7 linked regions of the Homo sapiens genome follow. The protein of the gene in region 7 purifies or fractionates together with the protein of the main gene of each other region. This does not show direct contact. Each region holds a gene or a part of one and is shown on either strand. Other genes may lie near its edges.

The links.
Region 1: the proteins of PDK4 (region 7) and YME1L1 purify together in Homo sapiens (affinity purification with mass spectrometry; one large-scale study listed by BioGRID and IntAct). This does not show direct contact.
Region 2: the proteins of PDK4 (region 7) and UHMK1 purify together in Homo sapiens (affinity purification with mass spectrometry; one large-scale study listed by BioGRID and IntAct). This does not show direct contact.
Region 3: the proteins of PDK4 (region 7) and CNOT6L purify together in Homo sapiens (affinity purification with mass spectrometry; one large-scale study listed by BioGRID and IntAct). This does not show direct contact.
Region 4: the proteins of PDK4 (region 7) and DNAJC10 purify together in Homo sapiens (affinity purification with mass spectrometry; one large-scale study listed by BioGRID and IntAct). This does not show direct contact.
Region 5: the proteins of PDK4 (region 7) and NUP188 purify together in Homo sapiens (affinity purification with mass spectrometry; one large-scale study listed by BioGRID and IntAct). This does not show direct contact.
Region 6: the proteins of PDK4 (region 7) and FRK purify together in Homo sapiens (affinity purification with mass spectrometry; one large-scale study listed by BioGRID and IntAct). This does not show direct contact.

The regions. Positions count from the first base shown.
Region 1 is NC_000010.11:27,147,885-27,151,384, forward strand, and holds part of YME1L1 (ATP-dependent zinc metalloprotease YME1L1), read right to left. Parts: intron 1,157-3,500; coding exon 1,022-1,156; intron 1-1,021. UniProt on the Homo sapiens protein: ATP-dependent metalloprotease that catalyzes the degradation of folded and unfolded proteins with a suitable degron sequence in the mitochondrial intermembrane region.
Region 2 is NC_000001.11:162,521,818-162,525,317, reverse strand, and holds part of UHMK1 (serine/threonine-protein kinase Kist), read right to left. Parts: intron 2,915-3,500; coding exon 2,768-2,914; 3' UTR 1-2,767. UniProt on the Homo sapiens protein: Upon serum stimulation, phosphorylates CDKN1B/p27Kip1, thus controlling CDKN1B subcellular location and cell cycle progression in G1 phase. May be involved in trafficking and/or processing of RNA.
Region 3 is NC_000004.12:77,715,628-77,718,368, reverse strand, and holds part of CNOT6L (CCR4-NOT transcription complex subunit 6-like), read left to right. Parts: 3' UTR 1-2,741. UniProt on the Homo sapiens protein: Has 3'-5' poly(A) exoribonuclease activity for synthetic poly(A) RNA substrate.
Region 4 is NC_000002.12:182,754,257-182,757,756, forward strand, and holds part of DNAJC10 (dnaJ homolog subfamily C member 10 isoform 1 precursor), read left to right. Parts: intron 1-446; exon of another isoform or gene 447-549; intron 550-746; coding exon 747-848; intron 849-2,057; coding exon 2,058-2,213; intron 2,214-3,435; coding exon 3,436-3,500. UniProt on the Homo sapiens protein: Endoplasmic reticulum disulfide reductase involved both in the correct folding of proteins and degradation of misfolded proteins.
Region 5 is NC_000009.12:128,982,199-128,985,698, reverse strand, and holds part of NUP188 (nucleoporin NUP188), read right to left. Parts: intron 3,151-3,500; coding exon 2,998-3,150; intron 2,798-2,997; coding exon 2,671-2,797; intron 2,407-2,670; coding exon 2,319-2,406; intron 2,226-2,318; coding exon 2,149-2,225; intron 800-2,148; coding exon 685-799; intron 1-684. UniProt on the Homo sapiens protein: Component of the nuclear pore complex (NPC), a complex required for the trafficking across the nuclear envelope. Required for proper protein transport into the nucleus.
Region 6 is NC_000006.12:116,054,392-116,057,891, reverse strand, and holds part of FRK (tyrosine-protein kinase FRK), read left to right. Parts: intron 1-3,500. UniProt on the Homo sapiens protein: Non-receptor tyrosine-protein kinase that negatively regulates cell proliferation.
Region 7 is NC_000007.14:95,590,017-95,593,516, forward strand, and holds part of PDK4 (pyruvate dehydrogenase kinase, isozyme 4), read right to left. Parts: intron 2,929-3,500; coding exon 2,744-2,928; intron 2,582-2,743; coding exon 2,495-2,581; intron 2,050-2,494; coding exon 1,972-2,049; intron 1-1,971. UniProt on the Homo sapiens protein: Kinase that plays a key role in regulation of glucose and fatty acid metabolism and homeostasis via phosphorylation of the pyruvate dehydrogenase subunits PDHA1 and PDHA2.

The sequences.
Region 1 (3,500 bases), on a different chromosome or scaffold from region 7:
GCTTTTCCCAGTATCCTAGAGGGCAGACTTCCCAGATTTCTAGCACGTTACCCTGGCATGACATCACAGCAACTTTTCTACCATTCAGTGAGCCAAGGCCATGCCTTCGCCAACAATGTCAGGATCTCAGCCCTGGGGATGGAGAACTCTTCCTGACTCTATCTCAGCCCTAGAAGTATGAGCTGCTCCCTAAATCTGCTGGTCCTTTATTTTTTTAAGAGTTTTATTTACTTCTTAAATCCCTACCTATTCCACTTCCCTGTAAAAACAGGTGTTTTTTTTTAGATTAAACCAAAAAATGAGATTACATTTTTATATTTATTTATTTATTTATTTTTGAGACAGAGTCTTGTTGTCACCCAGGCTGGAGTGCAGTGGTGCGATCTTGGCTCACAGCGACCTCTGCCTCCTAGGCTCAAGCTATTCTCTTGTCTCAGCCTCCTGAGTAGCTGGGACTACAGGCGCACGCCACCACACCCGGCTAATTTTTGTATTTCTAGTAGAGATGGGATTTCACCATATTGGTCAGGCTAGTCTTGAACTCCTGACCTCAGGTGATCCTTGAACAACACAGATTAAAGCTGCACAGATCCACAGATACGTGGACTTTCTCCGGTCTCTGCCACCAGAGACAGAAAAACCAACCCCTCCTCTTCCTCCTCAGCCCACTCAACTTGAAGATAATGAAGATCTTTATGATGGTCCACTTCTACTTAATGAATGGTAAATATGTTTTCTCTTCCTTATGATTTTCTTAATAACATTTTCTCCATCTTACTTTATTGTAAGAATACAGTACACAATACATAAAATATACAAAATATATGTTAATGGACCCTTTATTTTATCGGTAAGGCTTCCTGGTCAATAGTAGGGTATTAGTAGTTAAGTTTCTCAGGAGTCAAAAATTATACTCAAATTTTTGACTACGGGGGAGGGACAATATCCTTAATCCTTCATTTGTTTAAGGGTCAACTGTATATCAAAAAGGCTTTCTCACACAACCAGGATAAAGACTTACCTCACTGCTGGGAGCCTCATGCTCAGGAACTACATCTCGATGCTGGTTTTGAGAAACTGACACTCCACTGAGAGAAACAGAAGTGTTTTTTGGTGTATGGAAGGCATTGATGAGATGACTCAGAGGAACTGTAACCTAGAAAAAGATAAAAGTTAAAAACTAAGTAGTTTTTTTTTAAATAAACAGAACAATCTCCTTTTTTTGTCAGGATTTGTTAAGAGTTAAAGGTACATTATATATCAACTCTGTATACTAAAAACTGTAAGTACTCAGATTTACTGCTGGTGAGACGAAAACTGGTATGTTCTTTCAGGATATTATTCTGAATATGTAAATCAAAAGTATCAAAAATACATACATTTCTTGTTTGTAGCAATCCACCTTCTAGGAATTTATTATAAGGAAATAATCTGACAAGTACTTGCACATGCATAGAGAACAACTCTCATCGAAACATTTAAAAAATAGTAGAAAGCTGGAAACATCCAGCATTAGGGGAGCGGCAAAACAAATGATACCACTGGTCGAGTGCAGTGGCTCACGCCTGTAACCCCAGCACTTTGGGAGACCGAGGTGGGTGGATCACTTGAGGTCAGGAGTTCAAGACCAGCCTGACCAACACAGTGAAACCCCATCTCTACCAAAAAATACAACAATTAGATGGGTGTGATGGTGTGCGCCTGTAGTCTCAGCTACTTGGGAGGCTGTGGTAGAAGAATTGCTTGATCTCAGGAGGCGGAAGTTGCAGTGAGCTGTGATCATGCCACTGCACTCTAGCCAGGGCAACAGGGTGAGACCTGTCTCTCAAAAAAAAAAAAAAAAAAAAAAAAAGAAACTACCACAGAATGAAATACATCCAACATTTAAAAAAAAAAAAATAGTAAGTAGGCCGGGAATGGTGGCTCATGCCTGTAATCCCAGCACTTTGGGAGGCCAAGGCAGGTAGATACCTGAGGTCAGGAGTTCGAGACCAGCCTGGCCAACGTGGTGAAATCCCATCGCCACTAAAAATACAAAAAAATTGGCCAGGAATGGTGTTGGGCGCCTGTAATCCCAGATACTTGGGAGGCAGAGGCAGGAGAATCACTCGAACCTGGGAGGCGGAGGTTGCAGTGAGCCAAGATCATGCCATTGCATTCCAGCCTGGGTGACAAGAGCAAAACTCCATCTCAAAATAAATAAATAAATAAAAATGAAAACAAAAAAAACACTTGAGCCCAGGAAGTTGAAGCTGCAGTGAGCTATCATGCCACCACACTCCAGCCTGAATGACATGGCAAGACCCTGTCTCAAGAAAAAAAAAAATTTACTTAATAAATATTTGTTGAGTAAATGAATACATTAAATGGGTTCTTATTATATACCAGGTTTAGTACTACAGGCTTTACTTCTATCATCCCATTTAATCCTCAAACAGCTATAATAATGAGTAACAATTATACTTCTTGTTACAGTTCTGTCAGAGACTTTTGAACCAGAGTGACTCCATCTGGAGTAGGGGCAAAATGAGGGTAAATGAGGCTGAGACCTACTGGGTTGCATTCCCAGGAGGTTAGGCATTCTAAGTTACAGGATGAGATAGGGTGTGGGCACAAGATACAGGTCATAAAGACCGTGATGATAAAACAGGTTGTAGTAAGGAAGCCAGCCAAATCCCACCAAAACTAAGATGGAGAGGAGAGTGACTTCTGCTAGTCCTCACTGCTCATTATGTGCTAATTATAATGCATTAGCATGCTAAAAGACACTCCCACCAGACCATGACAGTTTAAAAATGCCATGGCAACATCAAGAAGTTACCCTATGTGGTCTAAAAAGGGGAGGAACCTTAGGGGTCCCCCTTTCCCTGAAAACTTATGAATAATCACACATTGTTTAGCATAAAATCAAGAAATAACTAACTGTAGGTATCCTTCGTGGACAAGCCCAAGCAGCTCCTCTGCCTATGGAGTACCCCATTCTTTACTCCTTTACCTTCTTAATAAACTTGCTTTCACTTTATAGACTCTCTCGCCTTTTTTTTTTTTTTTTTTTTTTTGAGATGGAATCTCGCTTTGTCGCCCAGACTGGAGTGCAGTGATGCAATCTCGGCTCACTGCAACCACCGCCTCCTGGGTTCGAGTGATTCTCCTGCCTCAGCCTCCCGAGTAGCTGGGACTACAGGCGCAGGCCACCACACCCAGCTATTTTTTTGTATTTTTAGTAGAGATGGAGTTTCACCATGTTAGCCAGGATCTTGATCTCCTGACCTCGTGATCCGCTCGCCTCTGCCTCCCAAAGTGCTGGGATTACATGCGTGAGTCCCCGCGCCTGGCGACTCTCTCGAATTCTTGTGCGAGATCCAACAACCCTCTCTTGGGGTCTGGATCAGGGCCCACTTCCAGTAAAAATTCCAGTGTTTATCTCCTTCAAAACTCAAGTTTGAGTTGAGAACAATGGCAAACTTAGTTGCCACTGTAATCCTGTTAAGAGGTGGGAC
Region 2 (3,500 bases), on a different chromosome or scaffold from region 7:
TTTACCCTTTCTCTCAAAAAGAAAATTTCTAGGTCTTTCAATAACTTCAATAAACCAAAATCCCTATGTATATATTTCATCCTAATCATGAAACTTGTATCTTTTGATATTTGGTTCAGGTTTAAGAAAGATAATATCACAGGAGGGAGGGGTAATCTGCTAATGTGATCTTTGGTAGAACGGGCTAAGAGCTATAAAATAATTTCAATCACAGGAGGCATTTCTTTTTCAATTCTCTGGCTTTAATATAAAACATCTAGCCAGGTGTGGTGGCAAGCGCCTGTAAACCCAGCTACTGGGGAGGCTGAGACAGGAGAATCGCTCAAACCTGCGAGGCAGAGGTTGCAGTGAGCCGAGATTGAGCCACTGCACTCCAGCCTGGGCAACAGAGCAAGACATCATCTCAAAACAACAACAACAACAACAAAAAATCTAATTAAATGCATGGTTAATTCAAGGCTCATCAATTATTCCCTCAGCTCCCTTAAAATCTAGTAACCATCTTCTGTAACAAAATTCTACAGTGTCAAGCACTAAATATATGTATGAATGTATCAGCAATAAGATGACAATCAAAGAATGCTGTGAAGATTGGCATCAAGATGTTAGCAGCATACTGCAGGACTAGGCTTAGAAGCCTACCTGCAGTTTATTTGTAAGGATTTTTCTTTTGGGGGCGGAGGGGAGAGAAAAGTAAATGTGCTAACTTAGGATACTTGCCCTTATAAAGAATTCCTTTGTATCCCATGTTCATCGTATTTAAGGACCTGATGTTTCTAATCACCACAAAATCTGCTACCCATATGAACATTTAGGAAAGTTTAGGTCTTCACAATACGGGTTCTGCCCACTTGAATTCTGACTTGAAAACAAACCAATTTATAATCAACTCCTGAAAGGGCCAAAATAAAAAATAATAGTTCTTCCTTCTAAGGGCATGTATTGGGGAACATGCCACAAGACCCTTTGGTAATTCATAAATCAGCCTCCTTATGCCAAATTTGGTTTCATAATAAACATTAAAGGAGAGTCCTGAATTTGACAATTATAAATAACTAAAATGTCAAACAATAATTGTTTGAATGGGGTAAAGTATTTCATTCTGTAAAATGCAAATTCTAACTGGACTCTCAGCAACCTGCATGGCAAACATAAGGAAATATGAGGAGGCTTCCAGCAGGGAAAGATAGAAGACTTTTTCCTTAGGAAAAAATAAATAAATAAAAAAATTAATAACCTGTATATAACTTGTCTTTTTTTTTTGGTATAATCAGTGCTTCATAAAGGCATCCTAATTTTTATATCTTTAAAGACAACCTACCATGAAATAAGAAGAATCCATAATTATAATTCTAAAAACCATGTAATCAACTTGTGTCCATGAACTCACGCATAGCAGCATCCTCTACTCAGGGACACATTATGTTGCTATGAATCCTTTTAAGAATTCTTTGAGTTTTTCTTCCTTTCTACTTCTACCTCATTATATCTACACCTTTCTTAACTACCTTGCAGTCAAAAGCCAAACTACCTGGGATGCTGCTCCTCTAGTTTGTCTTCAGCTAAGGATAGAGGCAAAGAATGAGGGAAGGGGAGGAAAAAGGGAGCAGGGATACGAGAAACAGAAAGGAAGAAAAAAGAATCCTTTTATTTTCCACCCTCTCTTCGCCCATTTTTTTTCTTTTCCCTTCACTGTACATCTAATTCTTTTGACCCACTTCAATTTTCATCATAGTAGGTAGAGCCACATCTTGAGAAACCTTAAAACTATAGATTTACTACAAAAAAGATGAGCTAATACAAAGTCTAAAGTAAACTAAAAGAGGGGTTGATTTACATCTGGCACAACTTAGTCTTTGTTCCAATCATTTTAGAAGTCTCAATTTAACTCCAGGCTAGACTCCAGTTTGTTCTGGGCCTCTCAGGAATTATGTTTTGTCATTTACATTGTATCAGACAGACTACCTCTCAAAAAATGTATATCTTAAATCTTACGGATGTGAAACAGGTAGGGAAGAAATAAGTATAGACTGTATTAGCTCACAGGATTCACACTATAAAGTACACTGACTCAAATTTTCTCTAATCATTCATACTCGCACATTCACTCAAGCATACATACTAGACATAAAAATTGTGCAAGATCAAGCATCAGCTTTCTATTTTAAAAGCCTTAATTTAAAAAAACTTAGATAGGCTCACTGCAGTTCCTTTAAAGGAATATTCAGTACTACAGTACTGCTTTAAGAAAAAATTCACAACTCAGTGTTAAGAACACAGTAGGTAACTGCTGCTTGACAATTACTTAACATTACTGAGAGCATCCAGTGCCAGCTTATGGATATCAACAATAAGGAAGAACCACTGGACAACATAAAGAAATAATCTGTAAATGATGTCACCAAACCTAACAAATTTGTTAGTATTTACCAAGACATGATATTATTCATCCTTGCTTCATGATCCATGAAATAATTAAGATTTTTTTAGGCTACATACTGAAGAGCAACACCTGCTCTCCCGCACAAAAAAGGGTTGCCCACATGGATGCTCTAAAACCCCTCAATGTATAGCTGAGAGGTCTTGTCCTACTCAGTGCCAAATGTATGCAACGCAGTCACTGCTTGGGCAATGGCTGCACATTAGTAGGATTAAATAAATGTATAAAGTACCTTCTTAAAATGGTAAGGGGGTAGTCCTGCATTCATATGTGGAATAACCCAAGAAATGGAAGAGGAGAAAAAGGAAACAGTCCTTAGGTTACTGATTAAAGCAAGGTTTGATACAGATATCCCCTCTTGTAGGCACTCAGCGGGTAGAATGTAGCCACAACAAACTTCCCATCAAACATCCTTCCAGTCAGTAATTTCTGCGCAGCTTTGGAATCACCAGCATTTGCATACTCAACAAAGACCTGAAAGAAGACAGAGAAAAAAACATTTCATTTCCACCAAGATTGTTTTAGACCAGTGCTTTACCACCTTTAATATATATACATCAACTGGAGATGTTATTAAAATGCAGATTTTGCTTCCTTAGGTCTGAGATGTCGCCTGAGTTTCTGTTCTAAACAAACTTCCAGGTGATGCCAATGCTGCTGGTCTATGAACTATACTTCAGGACAGCAAGGTTTAGAATACTTCCTCACAACTCAGCTCAACTTTGAAAAATCTCTCAAGGACAAGTTGTGTGAATCATGTACAATCTTTTGCTAAGGTCGTTACAGGAGTGATGAATAACACTAGACATCTGCCAAAGATACGGCTGAATAGCTCAGACAGCAACTGCATTTCAATGGTACCTGGATGATAATCTGTACTTTTAGCAGTGAAAAAGGAAAAAATATTGGTCAAAAGCTGCTGGAAATTGCACCTATTAGGAAGTACAATTTGGCTGGGTGCAGGGGCTCACTCCTGTAATCTGAGCACTTTGGGAGGCCAAGGCAGGTGGATCACGAGGTCGGGAATTCGAGATCAGCCTGACGAACACGGTGAAACCGT
Region 3 (2,741 bases), on a different chromosome or scaffold from region 7:
AAGTAGAATAGCATGAAAAACTTAATTTTGTGGACATTACCTTTTTTTGTAATCAGCTACTGTATGTTTTATTTTAGATCTTTTGTTTTGGGTGGGTTTTCTGCTCTGGAGGTATATGCACTAACAAAACATTTTCCTCCTTTCATATACGCATGTTAATTAGCAATGTGAGCAATATTTCCTACCATACTTCACTCCCAATATTTTTTGAGATGTTTGTATAAAATGGAATTTAAAGTTCACTTATGATTGTATATGAACCACAGAGGAGCCCATTTATTAATAAAAAACTTTTTTAATAGTTAAATGTAGAGGGAAAAAATAAAAAAAAATGGGAAACATTGTAAACAGCTTAAGTTTATTTTGTGTATGATCGAGGCACTCTGTTGCAGGAAGGTGTGTAATTGGGTTCTCTCTGCTTCAAATGCGCTCTTTCAAACCATTCATTATCCTGTGTATTTTTAATGTGGTTTTAGTAAATGTTGGTAGTAGCTCTGTTGAAGTAGGTAATTGTGTTATGTTTTGGGTGGTACACACTTGGGGCATGGTAACCCAAATTTCATGTGCACGGTTTCCCTTTAGCCCACTGCCCAAATTTCACATACCCTTCACCCTTTGTTCCCTTTGTAAAAGGAGTGGTATCTGTTTTGAGCTGCCAATTCAGATGATCAGAAATGCTGCTTTCCTCAGCATTGTCTTGTTAAACCGCATGCCATTTGGAACTTTGGCAGTGAGAAGCCAAAAGGAAGAGGTGAATGACATATATATATATATATTCAATGAAAGTAAAATATATATGCTCATATACTTTCTAGTTATCAGAATGAGTTAAGCTTTATGCCATTGGGCTGCTGCATATTTTAATCAGAAGATAAAAGAAAATCTGGGCATTTTTAGAATGTGATACATGTTTTTTTAAAACTGTTAAATATTATTTCGATATTTGTCTAAGAACCGGAATGTTCTTAAAATTTACTAAAACAGTATTGTTTGAGGAAGAGAAAACTGTACTGTTTGCCATTATTACAGTCATACAAGTGCATGTCAAGTCACCCACTCTCTCAGGCATCAGTATCCACCTCATAGCTTTACACATTTTGATGGGGAATATTGCAGCATCCTCAGGCCTGACATCTGGGAAAGGCTCAGATCCACCTACTGCTCCTTGCTCGTTGATTTTGTTTTAAAATATTGTGCCTGGTGTCAACTTTTAAGCAACAGCACTGCCTAAAAGCAAGCAGAGAACAGAATCCCAGCACCATTCTATAGGCAACTTTTTAGAATTCAGATATAGTAAATCTGTTCCAGATTTATGATGTTTTATGTAAAAAAAATTTTGTATAATAACATAGCTGAATATTTTTGTTTCATTTCTTTGATGTAAGGCGTGTGAACATTCGTTTGAATATCACATGTTGAAGTCAGGTATGGCACAATGGGTTCTGAGACCAGCTTTTCCTCCCCTCCCATTTGCCTTGTTCCAAGCTCTTTCTTTTCAAATTACTTTTCTGATATTCATAGGCAGGTATTTAATTTTACTAATTAGCATCCTGTGTGAATGTATTAAAGAAGCCACTGTGTTTTAGTGTAGTTGGCAAAAATATAAAAGCTGTTTCTTATTTGCCCCTATTTTTTTGGTGTCTTAAAGTTATATATTAAATCACAGAGAAGCAAGGGAGAAAGTTGAAAGATATCTAAGGCTCATATCACTTGATTCTATGGTAGATTATATTAGAATTGAGGATGTGGCACATTAAAACTGGAACATGGGCAAATATAGTGTTCCATTTTAAAATTCTAAGTTTATATTGTTAAATGGGTGAAAATTTAAGTTTATATTTGCATTTCCAAGCGTTTCTAAAAATCACTAATGCCATCTATACTTTTAGTATGAAACAGCAGACTATAGAAAGCACAGGGAAGAATAGGCTAAATACATTCTTTGAAGAACCAGAGGCATATAACCACATCATTATGTCATTCCTAATACATGGCTAGATTTTCTAATGATAAAATTGACTGTGTCCCAATGCTTATTTGATTCTAAGCTTTTTTATTCTGTTTCTGAGATATTTTAATAGCTTTGCAAAATATGCTGACCAGTTTTTGGAAAATAATGGTTTTTATAGCAAGCAAAGACTTTATGGCACATTTTCAAAATAGCACTCATACATACTTACATTTTGACAGAAATGTGAATTCTCACATTGATGAGATATTCTTTTTCCCACCTGCCCTACCCTTTAAAAAAGGTCACTTTTCTAATGTGTAGTAGATTCATTTACGCCTTTCCCTTTGAGTCATACCATGTTTGGAGAACTGTGTGAATTGTAGGTAGAGAAATTAACTAGGGAAGCCAGAAGCTTGAACTAAAGTTTTAAATTTGTAGGCAGATGAGAACTTTTATACTATGGTTGCTTTGGGCGATTCTAATTTTGTAATAGCATCATGATCACCAAAATTAATTCAAACATTTTAGTACATCTTTAATCTGTCTTATTTACCAAAGTTCTAATCTGTTTAAGAACAGGATGCCAAGAGCATCTTTCATTTTATAGAATGATATGCTCACCTTTATAAGTGTCACCTAAAAGCTTGAGGGTAAAAAAGAAGCAGCCCATATATCTAAACTACAGGATGTCTTGAACAAGATTCACAGAAAGAAAGAAAAAAAAGCAGTTCTTTCCAGGAAGGTGGTAAGGAAGAGCATGCATATTTCTTGTTTTAACCAAATACCTTTT
Region 4 (3,500 bases), on a different chromosome or scaffold from region 7:
TTGTTTTTTCAAAAATTATTTTTGAATCCTGGTCAAAGATTCCAGTTTGCTAATGAGTACTTAAAACTTTAAGAGTGCAAAGTTCAGCTACAGCAAATCCACAGACAAGGATCTCTTTATAACTTTTTGAAAAATAAAAATAAAAGCTTTAGAGAGAGGCTTCCTGGGCTGGTGCCCATTTTAATTCTGAGAAGGAAATTAAGCATTTCCTACTATAAAGGCTATCTTGAAGAAGAATAAAAAGGGATTACATTCATAGGGCATGATTCATAATTCTTTAACCTAAAATATAATCATGTACCCCCTAATTATTTGTGTCTTTATTCTTGCTGTTTTATTTCCTGATCATCATCTATTTCTAGAAAAAGTATTTATTATGGTTTAAAAAAAAGACTCAAGCTAGAGATATAGCCTGTTGTTTATAGCCTCTTCTTACCTTGGTTCAGGAGAGTAAAAAGGGACCATTCGTATAATTACCCATGCCGATTTCTCAATGTTTCAATGCCTATGGTTCTCATGGCGAATGGAGCAGCTATAAATAAGGATCAGGTATTCATCAGTATTTAGCAGTATTCATCACCATAAGTCCTTTGCTAAATTTGGTGAGACTAAAATTTTTGTCACCAGAAATTTAGAAATGGGTTTTTAAAATCTTGTTCTTGTTACTTAAAGGCAAACTTGTTATAAATTTGTAACAAATAGGTGAAATCTATAAAATCTTTAATTCATATTCTCCTTCCTATCAGTATAACATTCAGGCTTATCCAACAACAGTGGTATTCAACCAGTCCAACATTCATGAGTATGAAGGACATCACTCTGCTGAACAAATCTTGGAGTTCATAGAGGTATTTCAGATTATAGACTATGTGACTAGAAATTTGTCTGTTTCTATGTAAACCCTGTATGAATGTTTCATATTGTTTAATAGGATTTACTCTTTTCATGCCCAAACTATTTTCTTACAAAATGATTTTTAAAGAATTTTTCTAATGTTTTACTCTTCTTATATACTTGTCTGTAAACTCAAAGTAAATCTGTGTTTTATTTGTTACCTGGTATGTACAGTGCCTTATAAACAATGGACACAATTATTTATTGAACATATGCAATGTATTTTCACCTTGTCACCCCTTTGCACTGTTTTCTCTGAAAACAAGTGTCTGGCATCTACAGCATCTTTTTTTTTTTTTTTCTCAGTAACACTCTTGATAGAAATACTTACAGGGGACTCCTAGAAAAAAAAAAAGAAAATTTCTAGTTTATTATTATCCATTTGATGACCCTCCAACCCTGTCCTACTCACCTGTTCCTCCTCCTCTGACGTAATGTTTTGTCTTGTTTTCCCAGTGAAGCTAGCCTCTTCATCAGTATTACCTGACTGTTGTAGGCTGAAGCTTTGTTAAAATATCATTTGGAACAAAGAATCTGTAGAAAGGTGTAGTATCTCCAGTCAGAATGTCAGAAAAATGAGATAGTAGGCTTTCCACTAGTAATTAAAGAATCATTTCCAAACCAGTCATTCTTGGTTCTAGAACAGAACTTTATGGCCTCTGTAGACATCCAGGCAGCCCTTGAAACTCTTTTATTATCCATGCAGAAACTTAAAGTTGCCTCTTTGCCTGTTATGATTTTAGTGATACATAGAGATAAAGGATAAATAGACCTTGATTTTTTACAAAACTAATGAGCAAAATCCAAACTTAAAAATCTAAGTTAGGTTTATTTTCATATTTTAAGATAATTCACATTGGATTTCTTTTAGCTATCCTTAAGCATCTTTTGGTTTCTCAAAAATGGGAACTTTCTAAAGGACATACACAGATTGAGCACCCCTAATCCAAAAATCTTAAATCTGAAATGCTCCAAAGTCTGAATTTCATGTTTAGACTTGGGTTTCATTCCCAAGATATATGCAAATATTCCAAAATTCAAAATTCTCAATACTTCCAAGTATTTTGGATAAGAGATACTCAACCTGTACCAACAATTTGCCAGGAATATATGAACAGCTATGCTTTATATATATGTTATAATGGAAGCTATATTCTCTTCAGGATCTTATGAATCCTTCAGTGGTCTCCCTTACACCCACCACCTTCAACGAACTAGTTACACAAAGAAAACACAACGAAGTCTGGATGGTTGATTTCTATTCTCCGTGGTGTCATCCTTGCCAAGTCTTAATGCCAGAATGGAAAAGAATGGCCCGGGTATAGTAAAAATAGTTTATTTTAAATCTTAACATTTACTAAGAATGTTTATTTAACAGAATTATTTTGAAACGGATGTGAATGAACCCACAACTAAATTATTACTTAATAACAGTACTGATCATACCACTTTGATTCCAGCTCTGTTTCTGTCTGGTGTGTGAATGGTATAGCCTACCATTTTTGTGTGTATAGCATCTGGTACACTTTTTTTTTTTGGTCGGGTAGCAGGGGGCAGAGTCTCGCTCTGGAGTGCAGTGGCGCAATCTCGGCTCACCGCAACCTCAACCACCCTAGTAGCTGGGATTACAGGCATGTGCCACCACGCCTAGCTAATTTTTGTATTTTTAGTAGAAACAGGGTTTTGCCATGTTGGCCAGGCTGGTCTTGAACCCCTGGCCTCAAGTAATCTGCCCACTTCTGCCTTTCAAAGTGCTGGGATTACAAACATGAGCCTCCGTGCCCAGTATATCCAGTACTTTTGACTAAACTGTTGCCAACAACAACCCAAAAATTTACCTCATATTTGTTTCAATTTTTTCTAATTTTTTTCCTGCTTTATTTTTAGAGTTTAAAAATATCATTTCCTGACATACTGTAGGACTTAAAAGTAAGAAAAAAAAGCTTTCAGCATGTGTATTTAGAAAATTTCCTGAAAATAGGCACCATGTTTTAAGTTGTAGAAGATTGGAAACAAATCACTTAAATACCAGAATGGAAAATGCAATTACTACTTCACATTTGTTTACAAGATAAAACACTAAATCTGAGTTAAAGTGATTTCTAGTATCTTAACATTTAGGATTACATATTTTTGTGCTCTTTTCAATAAAATTTTTAAGTTCAGGTGTGAGTCAGTATAACACATTAGACACCTACAAAGCTTGTTTTCATTGGAAAGAATACTTTGAAATATTGCAAAGACTTTCATTAGTTTCTAGCACTTTGAATTTTAGAAGTATATAGTTTTTTCTCATGTAACAGTTAAATGAAATAAATTGTTTAATCTGCAATAATTTTAGTAAGTACTTAATTACAAAATTAGATTACAAATTCATTAGTATAAATGGTCTATTATATGTTAAACCCTTATCCATTTTTATTGGGTAAAAGTCACTGATAAATAATATAATAACTGTTTCACCATAATAATACAATGCTTATTTCTTTATTGCAAACATATGTAAAAAGTTATGGAGGTAATCTGTTTTTTCTTTTACAGACATTAACTGGACTGATCAACGTGGGCAGTATAGATTGCCAACAGTATCATTCTTTTTGTGCCCA
Region 5 (3,500 bases), on a different chromosome or scaffold from region 7:
TTTTTCATGCATGACCCTCTTCTCAATCCCATGAGGTAGAGACCATATAGCATTCTGTTTTAGAGACTCTTAAGATATTCTTTACTTGCTCAAGGTCATGCAGCTAGTAAGCTGTCAACCTGAATGTAAACCTAATTCTGACTCCAAAATTTATGCTCTATGTCATTATTTATGCTCTATGTCAGTATTTTTCAAACCGAGTTGTAACCCATTAGTAGATTATGAGATCAGTCTATGGTCAAAATTCACTTAAATAGGGAGGAGACTGAATAGAAAATATCAGGGTACAACTTGTGTGGTAAGAATAAATGTTGTGAAATAAACTGTGAAATTTTGCTTCAGGAATATACACACATGTATATATACTGGGATATGATATTATCCCAGGTTACTGTCAAAATAGCTTGATAGTAACTGCAATACCCTTTTGGCCTCTTCCATTCTACTTCATAAACCTTCCAATCATTAAATAAATTCACATAATTAAGCACCTAATAGAGTACATAACTGGCACATACTAGGTACTCAATACATAGAAACTGTTGTCACTGTAACTTCAAGATGACTATTCTGCCTACAGACAAGAAGATTACAGCACCAGGGGCCAGGGAAACTATTTCAGAGTCATCTGACAAGACTGGACCTTTTCTTTTTCTGCCCTTTGTGAACAAAATCAGACTGTACCTTGACAAGGGTGGTGATCAAGCGCAGAAAGGCAATAGTAACCCCATACTCGCCCTGAGGCTGTTCACTGTTCATCAAGAGGTTTCCGTACCCTCCAGCATTCATCCCTTCCGCACTGGAAAAAGAAGTAGAGGGAAAAAAAATGATAGGGAAATTTCAAGGTTTCAAGAAACTAATCATAGAGCATTCTTGTTATAGTCTAGATGACTTGAATATAAAATAGAAAAGCTCTCCAGTGGAAATAATCCAATCAAGACAGTTCTGTACCCAGGGTAAACATTAAGAACATGTTTTATTGATGTAAAACCTAGATTGAAAGTAAAAAAATCAAAGGAACATCAGGGAAACATTTTTGTCAAGAGACAGCAAGGCGAGAATGCTCAGGTAGTAAGATGGAGCCTGTGTACTGGTAAGTGGTCTACTGGCTGAGCTCGAGAACCCATGAAATGAGAAAAAGTACAGAGTGATTGTGGCTTAATAACGGGACACCAAGTCCCTGAATCTAGAAACCTCTGGATTTTCTGGGCTGGAAAGTAAATGCTCACATACTAACGTGATTGATGTTGGATAAGAAATCTCTCTTGCTCTCGGCCGGGCACCATGGCTCATGCCTGTAATCCCAGCACTTTGGGAGGCCAAGGCAGGCGGATCAGTTGAGGTCAGGAGTTCGAGACCAGCCTGGCCAACACGGTGAAACACTATCTCTACCAAAAATGCAAAATTACCGGGGCGTGGTGGTGAATGCCTGTAATCCCAGCTACTTGGGAGGCTGAGGCAGGAGAATCACTTGAACCTGGGAGGCGGAGGTTGTGGTGAGCCAAGATCACGCCATTGCACTCCAGCCGGGGCAACAAGAGCGCAACTCCATCTCAAAAAAAAAAAAAAAAAAATCAGGCCAGGCGCGGTGGCTCACGCCTATAATCCCAGCACTTTGAGAGGCTAAGGCGGGCAGATCACTTGAGACCAGGAGTTCCAGACGAGTCAGACCAACATGGTAAGACCTCGTCTCTATTAAAAATACAAAAAATTAGCCGGGCGTGGTGCCGCACATCTGTAATCCTGGCTACCGGGGAGGCTGAGGTGGGAGAATTGCTTGAACCCGGGAGGCAGAGGCTGCAGTGAGCTTAGATCGTGCCACTGCACTCTGGCCTCGGTAACAGAGCGAAACTCCATCTCAAAAAATAAAAAAAGTAAATAAATACATAAATAATACAAAAATTAGCTGGGCGTGGTGGCTCGAGCCTATAATCCCAGCTACTCGGGAGGCTGAAACACAACAACTGCTTGAACATGGGAGGCGGAGGCTGCACCACTGCACTCCAGCCTGGGCAACAGAGTGAGACTCCATCTCAAAAAAATAAACAAACAAATACATAAAAATAAAATTAATAAACCTAGGCTAGATCTGAGACATATGTGGTTCTCACTAGGGAATATGGCCCACCACCCTAGGACTTGGCTCACCTAATCATCTGACTCAGGCTGGAGACAGGATGGGCCACAAATGGTAAAAAACCTGTGTGACGAAGATCAGTCCAGACCTGAGAAGGAAAAGGAAGAGTTAAATGCCCACATATCTTCAGGTATGTGCCAAGTGCTACATTTTTGGCTCTTGGGAAGATCTGGCATCTCACCTTTGCTGGATTGCGGGCAGCCAAAACAGTTAAGCAGTTGACACAAGAAGCAATGACATCCACAGGTGGGGAGATCACTGTCGTTAACCTGGTTGGAGAACAATACACTATACTCAATAAAGCAAATAATACAACTGGTTCCCTCACAAACATTTTTCCACTTCTCTCTCCCCAGTCTCTCCCCTCAGCAGACATATAAAAACAGGAAAACCCTCACAGATATAAAAACAGGAAAACCAAGGAATATGCGCGAACTTTAACCCAGTGGGTATGTGTCCAGGTTCCTGCAAACTGAGGGCACAAGTGCTGAGATCTCTACTGGGCAGCTGAGGGTCAGCCAAGACAGACTCACCGCTGCAGCAGCATGTAGATGCGAGATGTGATGGGCAGGAGACAGTCTGCTATCGACAGGTCTGTACTGATGACCTTATGGACGAGATCAATGATGGGTTTGACTCGCTGGCAGTGCTGAATCACATCTGAGAAGAAAGACAGCCTGTGACCTCACGGCAAACAACCCCTTTAAGATCACTGAACAGTCTCTGAGACCCAGATACACAAATCAGACAAATCACAATCTTGATGGTTCTAAATTTTATGTAGATATTCTATTTTCTAAATCCTCCAAGCATATCCACTTTTCCTCCTCGTAGGTGATGTTTCCGAAAGCTGACCTTACCTGCAGTTGAAACAACATGAAGCAACATTTCAATCTCGCAGGTAAAGAGGGTCCAGCTGCTATAGGAGTATTCCCAGCGTACCAGGTATGCCCTATCATCCAACATTACTTGGCCCACAGTGCCTTGAGGTATGCGAAGGTTGGTTTGACCCCCTGAGAGAGAAAGATAAATTAGTCTAATATCTGAGGATAAATAAAAAATGTAACTCCTCTACCAGACATCAATATTTTAAACACACAGAGATACACAAACTCACAGACATTTTTTTTTTTTGAGACAGAGTCTCCCTCTTGCCCAGGCTGGAGTGCAGTGGCGCGATCTCGGCTCGCTGCAACCTCCACCTCCTGGGTTCAAGTGATTCTCGTGCTTCAGCCTCCCAAGTAGCTGGGACTACAGGTGCGCACCACCACTCCTGGCTAATTTTTGTATTTTTAGTAGAGATGGGGTTTTCCATGTTGACCAGGCTGGTCTTGAGCTCCTGGCTTCAAGTGATTTGCCTGTC
Region 6 (3,500 bases), on a different chromosome or scaffold from region 7:
AAGGTATCATATTCTGGGTAAAAGGCTTGAGAGCAGTGTTCTTATTAATTTAGATTTTCTTTGCCTACAAACACAAAATAAGGCAACTAAATTATTATGGCTATTTTTGATTCTCAGAGTCATTTGTAGCCAATAATATTTTTTCCCTCTGCACATTACCTTGACCTTTCTTCTTGGAATTGGTTCTCAGCAGCATTCCTACCTGTCAGTACCATTCTAGATCTCTGTAGTTAGCTTTCCTTGGGATCTTCACATCCACTGGAATAAAAACCATGATGCCCAGAAAATGCTGCCACTCTGCCTCCTGGCTGGAACAGGCTACTTGTTTTCTTTTAAGTGCACACCATGGTCTTCACCTGTGAACCTGGCTTACTTCTGAAGTTTCTTGTCACCGTAAGGCAAAATTGCTTCAATACTCTTAGTGCAAGTAGCTGTAGCTTCTAGAATTCCCCTCCATCTCAAATAGAAGCGATTTTTACTGAACAGCCTTCTGCGTGAGTGTGTCCAAGTGGCTCACACAGTACTTTAACACTTGAAGAATTATATAAAAACAACTTATTTTAATATTTTTTCTTCAGTGAGTTTTTTCAAAAGTCTATTTTTTTCTCCTGAATGCTGTGAAAATTAACGTAATTTTTTAAAATCATGAGCTCAGTAAGTTGACTTAAGGAAAGATTATTGTTTATATCCACATGTATGGGATGAGTAGGCAATGGGAAACCAATGAAAGCTGTCATCTAATTCCTAATTAGACCAGTTTAATGCAACGTATGTTAGTATTTGTGTTTTTATGTCTTTACTTTTGATGTGCATCTGTAAGAAGAAACTGCAAATACTTCTGGAGTTATTGGTGCCAGGGAAAATTAGTTTAAGGCTTTAGTTTGCAGTTTGTTTGTTTTCTTTTATACTTGGAAGTAGAGATGTTGAAAAACAAACTATTGTTTAAAAAGCCCAATTTACTAATTCTTATCCCACTTAGAAATGCTTTTCACCTTTACTGAATATCTTCCACTAAGTGATATAATAAACCAATTCTTGAAGATTTATTTTGTCTTTATGAAGAATCATTAGATTTATCTTATCTTCGACTTGAATTTATTCCTAGCTCATTTTAGAGATGAGTCTTTTTCTTCAACATCTTCAATGTGAAATCCCTCGAAAACCTTGCCCTTAGGGTCTTATTAATCAGAACTTTCTTTAATATTTTATTTATGGTGTTTTTAAAGATATAAAGTTCACATAAAAATAATGATGTGGAAATAACATATAAATATTAGAACCAAAAGTAATGGCTTTAAATTTCATTGCTTTAATTGTAAAAAATTCAAGTATTGCAAAATATTGATAAAAAGCAATATGATCAGCAATAATATTAGACGTAGCATCATTTATCTGCAAAGAGTTTAAAAAGTTTTTTTGCTTAGGGAGGATCACCTGTGTCCAGGAGTTCAAGAACAGGCTGAGCAACATAGTGAGACCCAGTCTCTACAAAAAAATTAAAAAATTTGCTAGGCATGGTGGCACAAACCTGTAGTCCCAGCTACTCGAGAGAGTGAGGCTGGGGCAGGAAGACTGCTTAAACCTGGGAGGTTGAGGCTGCAGCAAGCTATGGTTGTGCCACTGCACTCCAGGCTGGGTGACAGAGCCAGACCCTATCTCGAATCCCCACCAACCAAAAAAAAAAAAAAAAACCAAATGAACAATTTTTTGCTTAATTGTTAAAGTGTACCTTAGGTGTTGTCTAACATACTTTTGTGTTAAATTGAACTAGGGTCAGAGATGAGATCAGTTTAATCTCCCAGAAAGGGGATTGGTAGGAGGGGAATGGGGTGGACATAATCACATAAGCCAGCCACTGATGATTTCTGCTTCGCCAACTTGACCACGCAAGCCAAGGGCAGCAGTTGAGATAGCTGATTTGACTCCCCTTTGCATGTTAAGTTTAAGTTATGATAACAACAATGAAATGTGCTGCTGAACTTCTGACTCCATACACTTCTCAAAGACATAAATGAAGATTCTATTAAGAAAATTAGATCACTACAATCATCTCTAAAGTTTATTGTTTATTAAGCTCCACATTTTTCTAGGTCATATTCTTGTGTATCTTCTTACTTGTGAATCAGTAATTTTGTCTTAAGTCCATTCTATAGGCCTGGTATGGTGCTAAGTGAATGACTCAGCAAAGGCAGAGGAATTAGTATTTGCTTTGTTATATATATATAATTTGGCTTTATGTTAAGAAATATTTCCACACTTATGTGTGAAACAATAAAGGCCATAAAGTTTATTTCTGTCTCCTAAATTTGAGCATGGCATACCTTTGTGGGTAGGAGGGCTAGAGGAGCCACCCATACTGACCTACGATGGTGTCTTTGTATCTCTTGTTAGCACTTTAGCAGGGGAAGAAGCAAAGTACTGGATTTTGTAGAAAGTTTTTCTTCTCCTCTTATTACTGTGAAAGGTAGATAATTTCCAATTCCTCATCTATTCATCATTTCAGTGGCTTCCTTGAAAAAGAAAGCAAGAATAAATATTTGTAACTTGTAGTTTTGTTGGTAGTTTATGATTATGGTATAAAAATGTTAGAATGTTCTGAAGTATAAAAGTAATGGGATTTTTCTCCATGTATTTAGGCCATATTTTCCTGCTTGTGCTGCTCTTTAGTGTGTCAGACTAGAGTTCTTTGAAGATTTTATCTAACCTATGATGATTGCCATTGTCGAGCTTGAAAGCAGCATGGTGAAACAAAGTGGTATATTCTTGGAAAGATTCTTATATCACCTATATCACCGTTTTAAAATAGAGTGAGGCTTTGCTATTTTGTCATTTGAATGCTGTGGAATTTAATAATTATTGAATACAAATTGTACATAGTGTGCCTAATCATTTTCAACTTAAATGTCAGCAGATTTTTTTCTTAGCTGGGATATGAGACCAGCTTTTGCATCTTAATTATAGGTATAGAAACAATGTGGTTTAAAAATTAACATTACCCTTAATACATTTTAAAAGTCATCAGAATATTCATAATCCACTCTGACATAATAGATGTTATCTACTTTGAGAAGTTTGAATTATTAAAAGTCACCAGTGTGCGATCAGTTCCACAATTGTTCTTTATCTAGATCATTTATTTTGTTCCCTTTGTGTAAGTTGTCAGGGAAGACTAAATGCCCATGTGTCAAAATGAAAATAATACCTAGTAATAAATGCCTGAAAATAATGCCTGGCATTTCTGGGTTCTCTCCTCTAAGACAAAGTATACTTACTATAATTTTAGAAATGAAATAAAAAGGTATTTATATATATAAATAACACTATATTTATAAAATATAGTATTATACTATATTATACTATATAATATATAATATATAGTATAATATTATAATAGTATAATATACTATTATATATTATATATATTATATTATATATAATATAGTATAAATAATATATAATATACTATATAAATAATACTATATTTATAAAAAATACACTAT
Region 7 (3,500 bases):
CTTAGCCTCCCAAACTGCTGGGATGATAGGCATGAACCACCTTGCTCCATATGATTAATTTTTGTATTTCTCCACAAATGTGTGAAGTTGGGTAAGTGTGGAAGAACAGTGCTATAAATTAGATTTTGTGGATTATTTCTATTTTCAACATTTTTGTACTGCACAATTTCAGAGTCAAAATTTTATGTATTTTAAGACAGAAGGGAGAAAACTGTGCTTATAGCATAATATTGAAATTAATGCTAACTATAATTTTCATATTTTTAATATTTAGTAAAATAACACACCTGATTTTTCTTGTTTTTTGTATCACCCAAACATTAAATCTTATATGTTAAATATGCTAAAATTTTACCAAGAGGATAAAGGAAACAGACAAACAAAAACCTCTTAATGCTTTTTGGAAAGAAAAATAAAAAGTAAAATAAAATTAGAAAGAAAAGAAAAATAAAAGTATTATTCTTCAGCGTTCCAGGCCTTGGCAAAGTTCGAATCAGAAAACACAAGGTCTGGCACAATCCCCTCTTTATTTTGTCCAACAGTTGGAGCAGTTTATCTACAAGTATTATGCAACAACCCTGTTTATGCTCAGAGATACGTTCCATTCTTTATTTGCTCTTCTACTTTTGGTATTTATTTACATTTGCTTGTCCCTAATCTGTTAGGCTACTCTTTGAGCAACTTGATTTTAACTGTCACCATAAACAAAAACTGTTCCTGTATAAATATTACTTGAGAAAGATGTTTACTTTAAATAGAAAAGAGAAGGTAATTCCAATTTAAGTATACTGTTTTGTTTTAAGATGCAACTATTTACCAGAACAGAATGGGAAGGGGTGAAAATAGTGCCTTTCGTTCATCATGTAGTCACTTCAGTCATTCAGACAGTATGGGAAGACCTTGTCAGAATTGAAATTTTGTTTGTTTGTTTGTTTGTCTGAGACAGGGTCTCACTCTGTCACTTGGGCTGGAGTGCAGTGGGACAATCATGGCTCACTGCAGCCTTGACTTCCTGGTCTCAAGTGATCATCTCACCTCAGCCTCCTGAGCAGCTGGGACTACACGTGTGTGCCACCATGCCTGGCTAATTTTTATTTTTTGTAGAGACAGTGTCTCCCTTTATTGCCCAGGCTGGTCTTGAACTCCTGGGCTCAGGCAAACCTCCCACCTCAGCCTCTCAAAATGCTGGGATTACAGGTGTATGCCACTGAACCCAGCTGAGCTGAAGATTTTTGAAGTATGTTCTGCTTCCAAAACAGTAGTATAAAACAATAGTGCAATTTTTTTTGTATTGGGGTGGAGACATTTAACATGAGATCTACCCTTTTAACAAAATGTTAAGTGTACAATACAATATCCTTAACTATAAGCACTATGTTGAACAGCAGAACTCTAGGATTTATTCATGTTGCATAACTGAAACTTCGTTATCTGTTGGATAGCAACTCCCCATTTTCCCCTTCCTCACAGCCTCTGACAACTACCATTCTACTCTGCTTCTGTGAGTGTGACCATTTTATACATCTCATATAAGTGGAATCATGCATCTGTCACTGGCTTATTTCTTATAGTGAAATTTAAAGTATTTTTGTCTCCAGGTCTTATGGGTAACCTCTTTAAGAGGATATTTCCACTGCTATATCCTCCCTACTTCTGGTCTCTTTATCCCTCATATTCTATAGGAAGTAATCTTTCTTTGATCTAAGATATTGGAATATAGTTGCTACTTTAATCCCATATTATTTGTTCAAAACATTCTTCTTTATGAATCCTCATTAGCAACTGAATAGGCAGAATTGGAGCCTTCCAGTTGAGATAGTTAAAGAGAACCTTGTCTTCAAAAAAAATGTGTACAAACTTTAGGCAAGAGAAAAAATGAACACAGAAGTTGCTTTATATTTACAAAAAGCAATAATATTAGGAGAACACAGAATTTTCCACAGGTTAAAATATATTTTACTTATAACTTACCATTCACTTGTGTAAGCTTTAATTCTGGAGATGATAAATAATACTGATCACAGAGCATCCTTGAACACTCAAAGGCATCTGGAATAGAAGTTGTTTTTTATAACAATGAAATGAGTTTATGCCAAGTACAGTTCTCAAATAATCTTCAGTGTCTGTATTACCCTAATCTAAAATATTCACTAAGGTACAGGTTTATGTATATAAAAATATATTTTAATATTTTATTGAAGAAAAATTAAGACAGTGTTTGCATTGCAGTTTTAGCAATATGTGCACTTCAGAGACTAAATACAACATATAAAATATGGCATGTTAGTCACTTATATTTGGATTTTTAAATAATATTTTAGAGGAATGTTTATACTACTGACTCTCAAAAGCAAAGGACCTTGAAGATAACATTTATAAAATAAATGGAACACTCTGTGAATATAAATTCATTCACAGAGTCACCTCAATTATAGATATGTCAATCATATATTGTACATTTTCAATAAGGGAAGTGCAGAAATACAGAACATACCTTGGACCACTGCTACCACATCACAGTTAGGATCAATGCTTCCAATGTGGCTTGGGTTTCCTGTCTGTGAGTCACTAAATATAAGAACTGTTGAAAAATAAAAACAAAAAAAAATTGTTATAAAATTCAGGATAATGATTAGTACTATCACTGAGAATGTGACCCGCTGATTAGTGAGACATCTAGTTATAGTATGGCTTATATTCTACACCCATGTCTATATACCATGATCATGATGAGCTAACTTACTGTGCTGGTTCATCAGCATCCGAGTAGAAATACGGTTCATGTAAAATCGATCCAAGAAATATTGAAGATTTTGATTGGTGACTGGGTCAACTGTACAGGCATCTTTATACTCTATGATTCCTTGTGCCATTGTAGGGACTACATTATGGTGTCTATTTCGAACTTTGATGAGTGTATCTACAAAGCTAAGCCACAATATTTATGGTTAGTAAAAGTTCAAATACGTTTCATTCACTTATACTCCTAAGGTTACTTCACAGAAGGCTAAAGTTTTTTTTGCATTACCCATCTGAACAAATCAAATGATAAAACATTAGTCCTTTATTAGTAATCTCACTACAGATTCTTCCACTAGAGTAGAGGAGATAATTTCACAAACAGACTCATTTTGTTTCTAGCTTATATGTAAAACTATTAGCCTTATAACCAATGCATTCATCAGATGTATTCATTAAGTCTTCTCTTTATAAAATAATGATTAATATCTAATATCATCATTCTAGAGATGACTCTAGAATGCCATTGTGAAAAAACTTTCAAAATTTCTTGTCAGATTTAGAAAAGATCCTTATTTAGGTAGCTAGAAACTATCAGTTACTCTGAAAGAAAATGTTTAGTCTCCAATGACGCTGAAATGTATTAAAACTATGTAATGGTAAATCCTCCTACACATCTCATTATTGGAGTAAATTTATAGTAAAAATAGGTCTCCCTGGGGGATCAAAAATGAGTCCTCTACATTTCTTCACACTCAGCA